Linked DNA regions of Homo sapiens: region 1 is linked to region 2. Evidence: fine-mapped expression QTL. A gene starts in region 2. The other region holds a variant in brackets. All regions are shown on one strand. Distances are between the middles of the regions. Region 1 has its middle 5.5 kb from the start of IGFALS. Region 2 holds the start of EME2 (essential meiotic structure-specific endonuclease subunit 2).

Region 1 (4,248 bases), 27 kb after region 2:
TGAGGCCTCCCCAGCCATGTGGAACTGTGAGTCCATTAAACCTCTTTCCTTTATAAATTACCCAGTCTCAGGTATGTCTTTATCAGCAGCATGAGAAAAGACTAATACAGTAAATTATTACTGTAATAATTATTATTACAGTGGGACACTGCTGTAAAGATACCCAAAAATGTGGAAGTGACTTTGGAACTGGGTAGCAGGCAGAGGTTGGAACCGTTTGGAGGGCTCAGAAAAGGACAGGAAGATGTGGGAAAGTCTGGCGCTTCCTAGACTTGCTGAATGCCTTTGACCAAAATCCTGATAGTGATATGGCCAACAAAGTCCAGGCTGAGGTGGTCTCGGAGAAGAGGAACTTGTAGGAAACTGGAATAAAGGTGACTCTTGCTATGTTTTAGCAGAGACTGGTGGCATGTTGCCCCTGCTCTAGAGATTTGTGGAACTTTGAACTTGTGAGAGATGATTTAGGGCATCTAGTGAAATAAATTTTTTTTTTTTTTTCTGAGATGGAGTCTCACTTTGTCACCCAGGCTGGAGTGCAGTGGCGCAATCTCGGCTCACTGCAACCACTGCCTCCCATGTTCAAGCGATTCTCCTGTCTCAGCTTCCTGAGTAGCTGGAACTACAGAAGCACGCTGTCACACCCAGCTAATTTTTGTATTTTTAGTAGAGACAGGGTCTCACCATGTTGGCCAGGAGCGTCTTGATCTCCTGACCTTGTGATCTGCCCGCCTTGGCCTCCCAAAGTGCTGGGATTACAGGCATGAGCCACTGCGCCCAGCCAGTGAAAGAAATTTCTAAGCAGCAAACTGTTCAAAATGTGACCTGGATGCTGTTAAAAGCATTCAGTTTTATGTATTCACAAAGATATGGTTTGGAATTGGAACTTATGTTTAAAAGGGAAGCCAACCATAAAAGACTGAAAAATTTGCAGCGTGATGATGCCATAAAACAGAAAAGCCCATTTTCTGAGGAGAAATTTAAGCTGGCTGCAGAAATTTGCATAACAAGGAGCCAAATGTTAATCACCAAGACAGTGGGGAAAATGTCTCCAGGGCATGTCAGACGTCTTCAGGGCAGCCCCTCCCATCACAGGCCCCGAGGCCTAGGAGGAAAAAATGGTTTAGTGGACCAGACCCAGGGCCTTGCTGCTTTGTGTAGTCTCGGGTGCCCTGCCTCCCAGCCATGGCTAAAGGAGCCAAGGTACAGCTCAGACTGTTGCTTCAGAGGGTGCAAGCCCCAAGCCTTGGCAGTTTCCATGTGGTATTGGGCCTGCAGATGCCCAGAAGTCAAGAATTGAGGTTTGGGAGCTAGGTGCAATGGCTCACGCCTGTAATCCCAACACTTTGGGAGGCCGAGGCAAGTGGATCACCTGAGGTCAGGAGTTTGAGACCAGCCTGGCCAACATGGTGAAACCGTGTCCCTACTAAAAATACAAAAATTAGCCAAGCATGGTGGTGCACGCCTCTAGTCCCAGCTACCTGGGAGGCTGAGGTGGGAGAATCACTTGAACCTGGGAGGCAGAAGTTGCAGTGAGCCAAGATCATGCCACTGCACTCCAGCCTGGGTGACAGAGCAAGACGCCATCTCAAACATAAATAAATTAATAAATTAAAAATTCAGGTTTAGGAACCTCTGCCTGGATTTCAGAGGATGTATAGGAACTACTGGATGTCCAGGCAGAAGTGTGCTGCAGGGGTAGAGTCTTCACAGAGAACCTCTGCTAGGGCAATAC[G/A]GAAGGGAAATGTGGGGTTGGATCCCTCCACAGGGTCCCTACTAGGGCACTGCCTAGTGGAGCTGTGAGAAAAGGGCCACCATCCTCCAGACCCCAGAATGGTAGATCCACCGACAACAGCTTGCACCATGGACCTGGAAAAGCCACAGACACTTGTCACAAGCCTGTGAAAGCAGCTGGGAGGGGGGCTGTACCCTGCATAGCCACAGGGGTGGAGCTGCCCAAGGCCTTGGGAACCCAGCTCTTGCATCAGTGTGATCTGGATGTGAGACATGGAGTCAAAGGAGATCATTTTGGAGCTTTAAGATTTGACTGCCCTGTTGGATTTCAGATTTGCCTGGGGCCTGTAGCCCCTTTGTTTTGGCCAATTTCTCCCATTTGGAATAGGTGTATTTACCCAATGCCTGTACCCCCACTGTATCTAGGAAGTAACTCACTTGGCTTTTGATTTTACAGGCTTATAGGCAGAAGGGACTTGCTTTGTCTCAGATGAGACTCTGGACTTGGACTTTTGGGTTAATGCTGGAATGAGTTAAGACTTTGGGGGATGGCTGGAAGGGCATGATTGTGTTTTGAATTGTGAGGACATGCGGTTTAGGAGGGGCCAGAGGTGGAATGATATGGTTGGGCTGTGTCCCCACCCAAATCTTATCTTGAATTGTAGTTCCCATAATCCCCACATGTTGTGCACGGGACCCAGTGGAATGGCCGAATCATGGGCGTGGTTCCTGCCATCCTGTTCTCTTGAAAGTGAGTTCTCATGAGATCTGATGGTTTTATAAGGGGCTTCCCCCTTCACTGGGCACTAATTTCTCTCTCCTGCTGCCATGTGAAGAAGCACATGTTTGCGTCCTTACCCACCATGATTGTAAGTTTCCTGAGGCCTCGCCAGCCTTGTGGAACTGCAAGTCAATTAAACCTCTTTTCTTTATAAATTACCCACTCTCAGGCAGTCCTTTATAGCAATGTGAGAATGGACTAATGCAGATGGGAAAACGGCAAAATTCTTAATGTCCTCTATTTTATTTTTACGGTTTCAAGTACTATTTTGTGCCAACACTGTCCTGTTTTCCCTTCTAATCGGCCTCTTAAGAGGGAGAGGCCAGGCTCAGGGTTAACTGTTCCCGTGTGGTGGTTACCATCAGCCTCTGTGCCGTTTGGTGGAAGGGGTGTCACTGCCCATCATAAACCAAGCCCATCTAAGCCTGGGCCCCTTTCTGGATTCTTGGCCCCCTTTGTCTGTCCACTGCCATGCTCTCTGCACAGTGGTGGCTTTTTGGTAAGCTGGAGTTTTTTTTCTTTCTTTCTTTCTTTTTGGAGACACTGTCTTGCTCTGTTTCCCAGGCTGGAGTGCAGTGGCGCCATCTTGGCTCACTGCAGCCTCAACCTCCCAGGCTCAGGTGATCCTCCCGCCTCAGCCTCCCAAGTAGCTGGGACTCACAGGTGTGCTGTGTGCCACCATGCTCAGCTAATTTTTATTTTTTTGTAGAGATGGGGTCTCCCTGTTATTTTCAGGAAATTCTCACATCTGGTAGAGTAGGGCCTCATTGTTTAAGAGCATCTTGGCTCTTCCCAGTCCTTTGCGTTTCCATATAAACCTTGGAAGCAGCTGTTGAGTCTCTAAAACAAAACCAAATTCTGAGTAGCCCTGCAGTCTGTGACGTCTTCCTGTACTGAGCCTTCCCACCTGGGGACATGCAGTATTTCCTCCTTTACCTAGGACTTGCGTCTCTTGTGTTTTTGTAGATTTTCTATGTTGTGCTCTTGCATGTATTTTTTTCGGTTCTTTTTATATATGATTGTTGCTTTTATACTATTATGCATTATCATTTTCTCTCCTCAATTTCATTTGCTGTCTGTCAGGGTTGGAATTGTTTTCTAGACAGGCTGAGATAACTAAGTATGAAGTAATGTGTTCCCTTTACTCTATGATTCTGTTTCTAAAACAGTTTTATTGATTTATAATTTATAGAGCATAAAATTCTCTCACTGTTAAGTGTGCAAGTCGGTGACAGGAAATGCGTGTTGTGCAGCCAGCACTGCCCTCCGCCTTTCCCACATGAGCTGTACACTCTGCATCTGGTTTCTTCCCTGGATGCGGTGTTTTGGAGGCTCATCCATGCCGTGACACGGAGTAATGCTTCGTGCTTTGCAGCTGAACGATGCTCCGCTCTGTGGCCACATTTGTTCATGGCGCCTCCTTAGTTGCTGGAGGCTTGGACTGTTTCCATTTGGGGTTACTGTGAAAAATGCTACTCTATTTGTGTGCAAGTCTTTGGACACAGGTTTCATTTTTCTTGGGTACAGTCTTAGGAGTGGAGTTGCTGGTTCATAGTGTTGTATCTCCTTTAAAAAACTGTTTTCTAGTGTGGGCATAATTTTTTTTTTTTTTGAGACAGAGTCTTGCTCTGTCCCCCAGGCTGAAGTGCAGTGGCGTGATCTTGGCTCACTGCAAGCTCTGCCTCCTGGGTTCATGCCATTCTCCACCCTCAGCCTCCTGAGTAGCTGGGACTACA
Region 2 (4,248 bases):
CCAGGGATTGGAGAGGCCTGCGCCACCCTCCATGCAACGTCCAGACAGGTGGATGTTCAGCAGCCCGTCCAAAGGGATGCTCCAAGCGCTGTGGGGTGGGGCCAGAAGCCCGCCCACCTGGGCCCTGGAGGAGGCTGGAGTGTGAGAGCCTCTGTGACGCGCATCTGCCGGGCTACTCATACAGCCAGTGCCCAGCGCTGTCCTCCCAGCAGAGGAGCTCGTCTGCGCGGAACCAGAGAGCGATCTCGCGGCGGGCACTCTCCACCGAGTCGCTGCCGTGAATCAGGTTCCTGCGCGGAAGAGGCGCGTGTGAGCGTGGGAAAGAGACCTCCGGCACGGGTACCACGCAGGCTGAACAGGGGGAGGCCGGACGGGGCTGGGACCGTCCCCGGGGCGGGCCTTACTTGCCAACCTCGATGCAGAAATCCCCGCGGATGGTGCCGGGCGGGGCGTCGGCCGGGTTCGTGGCTCCGATGAGCGCCCGCGAGGTGCGCACCACGTCCAGCCCCTGCCATACCTGTGCGGAGGAACGGGCGCGGTATCACGCGGGGGTGGGGGTCCCGGAGCCGCCCGCCCGCTTCCCGGATACTCACCATGGCCACCACCGGCCCGGAGGCCATATACTTGACAAGGCGGCCGTAGAACGGGCGTTCACGCAGCTCGGCGTAGTGCTCACGCAGCAGCTCCTCGGAGGCCTGCGGAAGGGTCAGGCCGCCTGCGCCCGCACCCGGCACCTAGGCGTCCCCAGGTCCCCGCTCCCCTTCCCCCCACACCGCGCCCCCGCTCGCTCACCGCGCCCCCACCTGCACCAGCTTCAGCGCCACCAACTTGAAGCCCTTCCTCTCGAAGCGCCGCACAATCTCGCCCACCAGCCGCCGCTGCACGCCGTCCGGCTTCACGGCCAGGAAGGTGCGTTCGTGTGCGCCGGTGCAGGCTGCGGGGCAGGCGGGGACGGGCCGTCAGGCCGGCCCAGCACCGGCCACCCGCCCCCGGCCCGCGCCGCGCGGCTCACCCGCGGGGAAGAGGTTAGCGAAGATGGTCAGCACCAGGCAGATCATGATGGCGGTGCGGGAGCGGGATCCGCGGGGCGGGGCGGTGGCGCCCGGGGCGGGGCCTGCGCTTAAAGAGGCCTGGTCGGGGCGCTGCGGCCTCCGCGGGGAGGCTGCTTCACTTGCACCCCGGAACCCGGCAGCCGTGGGGGGCCGGAGGGCAGCTGCGGAGGCCAAGTCTCCTCCAGCAGCTCGGACACTAACTGTATCCCCCACAACCCGCCCAGGTGGTTCCACCCACGCGGCGCCCTGCTCCGCACCGCCCGAACCCCGCCCCCCCCGCGCCCCCCCGGCCAGGGCCACGACCACAGCGTCAGCCCTTCTCTCCCCGGTCCTAAAGACAGAGCGCAAAGACACCACGACCCTGGGTACTTCTTTTCTCTTTATTCCCTTTCATAGCTTCTGCCGGGATCCAGGCAGAGAGAGCACTAATGGGGGAAAGGGAGCGAGCGCTTCCCGCTTTCCCCAGCGTGGGCCCTCGGAGTTGGGTGTGGGGGCAGCAGGGCCAGAGGAAAGGCACAGGTGGCGATTTGCCCCAGCCCTCCCCCCTAAGATGCAGACCCTCAGAACACGTCGCGGAAGGTGAGCTCCCTGCTCCGAGAGGCAGACTCGGGTGTAACGCAAAGACGGTTTCTTTCATCAATAAGGTCCCCACTGCCTCACAGCCCCTAAGGCCACCCGCTGGTTCTGGCATTCTAGACGGGGGTGCCCTTGGCCCTTCCTTTGTCTTCCTGTTTTGCAGGGTAATCCCAGGGTTCCATGCGTATCCTCTGCACATTCAGCATGGGCTCCTCGGTGCTTGTGTCTCCATTTTTCTGTCGTTCTGCGATAATCATGGCCCGGAGGAGAGGCGGGTACGGCACGGAGGCCAGGCTGTCTTCCGGCGCCGGCGTGAACGCGGTGAAGGCCTCCTCCTCGTGCTTGGGCACCAGCCGCCAGTCATGGTACATGACGTGTTCGATCTCCCGCGCCTCGCTCTCAGTCTTCCCTGATGAAGAAAAAGAGGCGTCTGCACACACTTGCTGTGCCGTCGGCGGTCGGCATCGAACTGCCGGGCACCCGCTCTCCCGAGCCTTACCTTTGAAGGTCAGGATGCCCCAGGCCTTCCCGTGGTCCAAGTTCTGCAAAGCCAGAAGGAAGCGGGGTCAGCTCGCAAAGCTCTCGGCCCCCGAGGTCAGGAGGTGGGAGCCTCAGCCACGCAAACCTGCAGGGAGGAGGGGAGGCGGGGAGACCAGGCGGCTGCAGGGGCGGGGTGCGGACGGGGTGCACGCACCTGCGCCGTGTAGTCGGGCCGCACCCGCGTGAGGCGCCAGTAGCACGGCTCGTCGTGCTGCCACAGCCAGGACTTGCGCGTGACCAGGCGGCCCAGGCCGAAGAGCGGGAGGCGGCCGAGCAGCTGCAAGAGGCGGCTCTCGCGGCGCACGTCGGCCCAGGCCCGGACCGGCAGCCGGCGTCCAGAGAACGGCCGCGTCAAGGTCTCGTAGTCCACCGCGTAGAGCTGGGAGTCGCGCGGCCTGTTCAGTTGCTCCCGCAGGGCGCGCACGCGGCGGGCCAGCTCCGCGATCAGCCGCGGACGCACCTTCTTCCGCGCCATGGCGGGTCCGCGTCCTCAGCGGTCCGGCCGGAAGTCACCGGAAGAGGCCGGTGTCCCAGGCTAAAGTGTTCGGTCGCGGCCGGAAGCGAGGAAGAGGTCGGTCCGGCCATGGCGCGGGTTGGACCCGGGAGGGCGGGGGTCTCTTGCCAGGGCCGGGGCCGGGGACGGGGCGGGAGCGGTCAGCGGCGACCTCCAACCTGGGAGATCTCAGACTCCGACGCTGAGGACTCCGCCGGCTCGGAGGCCGCCGCGAGAGCCCGGGACCCAGCGGGTGAGCGCAGGGCGGCTGCCGAGGCGTTGCGGCTGCTGCGGCCGGAGCAGGTCCTGAAGCGCCTCGCGGTGTGCGTGGACACAGGTGCGGCGGAGGGCACGGGCGATACTCGGGGTAGGAAAGGCCTTTCTCCGCCAGGCGGCGCCCTCTGTCCGACTGGGCGGGGCGCGCGTGCCGAGGGGCCTGGGGCCGGGCCCGCCTCCCAGTCGGGGGTTTGTGCCGAATGGAGACTCCCCGGTCCGGCCACCCGCCCAGGTAGGGCGCTCGCGAGGGTGGAAGGAAGCAGTGACCGCGCTCCTCTCCCCCGGTCCCAGCCATCCTGGAAGACGCCGGTGCCGACGTCCTGATGGAGGCCCTGGAGGCCCTGGGCTGCGAGTGCCGCATCGAGCCCCAGCGCCCGGCCCGCAGCCTGCGGTGGACCCGAGCGAGTCCCGACCCCTGCCCCCGCAGCGTGAGTGGTCGCGGGTTCCCGAGGGCCAGCCGCGAGTTGGCTGTTTTGCTTCCATGATTTCAGCCCTGGAGCTGTCCCTGAGGCAGCTGCCCTGGGCCGTGCGCGTCTCGCGGATGGGTAAAGCAAGGATGGAGAACGGGAAGTGGAGGTGCCCAAGCCGTTCTGCTGGTATAGAGCCGAGCTGGCTGGAGAAGGTTCCGTCTCGATTCAGGCTGTGGTCTGGATTCCTGCCAGCCACAGAGACCTGGCCTGAGCTTGGCCTTGGCAGGAAAGGGAACACTGGGCTTCTGTAGAGCAGGCCTGTCAGGGCCTGGGCTTGGCTGGGGCCACGAACCGCTTTGCTGCTGGACTGCCCAGGCAGGGCCCCTGGGGCACCCGGGGTTGAGACAGGCAGCAGCGCGTCCCCATGTCCCCACAGCTGCCTCCTGAAGTGTGGGCTGCAGGTGAACAGGAATTGCTGCTGCTGCTGGAGCCCGAGGAGTTTCTGCAGGGCGTCGCCACACTGACCCAGGTGCTCGGGTGGTGGCAGTAGTCCCTCTCTAATCAGGAGGGGTGGGTTCCCAGCCGGGAGGCGCCTGCTCCGCCGGTCCCTGCCCCTGTAGACGGGGCTGGAGGGGGCATGGGGCAGGCCAGGACTCCTCTCTGATCCAAAGCCGTAGAGGTTTCTAGGGTGAGATGGAGAAAGCTCCTGGGCACCTGCGGAGGCTACAGCTGCTCCTAGAGGATCCTGAGAAGTGTCAGGAGGCCGGGGTCCGGGCAGTAGGCTGCAGGCTTCGTCCTCTGACAGCAGACAGCCTGGCCCCTGCCTGCGGGGAGCAGTGCTCAGGTGCTGTGGTGCCAGGTAGCGTGGGGTTAGGCTAGACCCCCTGCCAGGTCCCTGTGT

What was found. PIP is the estimated chance that this variant, and not a neighbour inherited with it, causes the effect. A credible set is the group of variants that fine-mapping cannot tell apart.
Region 1: its variant is the best candidate, but not a certain one, in a credible set for the expression of EME2 in whole blood (INTERVAL, PIP 0.56).

Annotation. Positions count from the first base shown.
Region 1 is chr16:1,797,051-1,801,298 of GRCh38, forward strand. No RefSeq gene overlaps it. Among named protein-coding and RNA genes, the nearest start is that of IGFALS, 5.5 kb to the left of the region's middle. The variant G/A (reference allele first, on the strand shown) is at 1,733.
Region 2 is chr16:1,770,477-1,774,724 of GRCh38, forward strand. It overlaps EME2 (essential meiotic structure-specific endonuclease subunit 2), which reads left to right and starts at 2,334. Exons shown (of 8, transcript NM_001257370.2): 1 at 2,334-2,998; 2 at 3,229-3,365; 3 at 3,784-3,876. The coding sequence starts at 2,752. It overlaps NME3 (NME/NM23 nucleoside diphosphate kinase 3), which reads right to left and starts at 1,067. Exons shown (of 5, transcript NM_002513.3): 1 at 1,013-1,067; 2 at 804-934; 3 at 594-695; 4 at 405-517; 5 at 1-290. The coding sequence starts at 1,058. The coding sequence ends at 173. It overlaps MRPS34 (mitochondrial ribosomal protein S34), which reads right to left and starts at 2,658. Exons shown (of 3, transcript NM_023936.2): 1 at 2,323-2,658; 2 at 2,128-2,170; 3 at 1,419-2,037. The coding sequence starts at 2,643. The coding sequence ends at 1,745. RefSeq lists silencers at 303-502, 813-1,402, 2,273-2,412, 2,773-2,872, 2,903-3,212 and 2 more and enhancers at 1,703-1,792, 2,583-2,722, 3,580-4,248.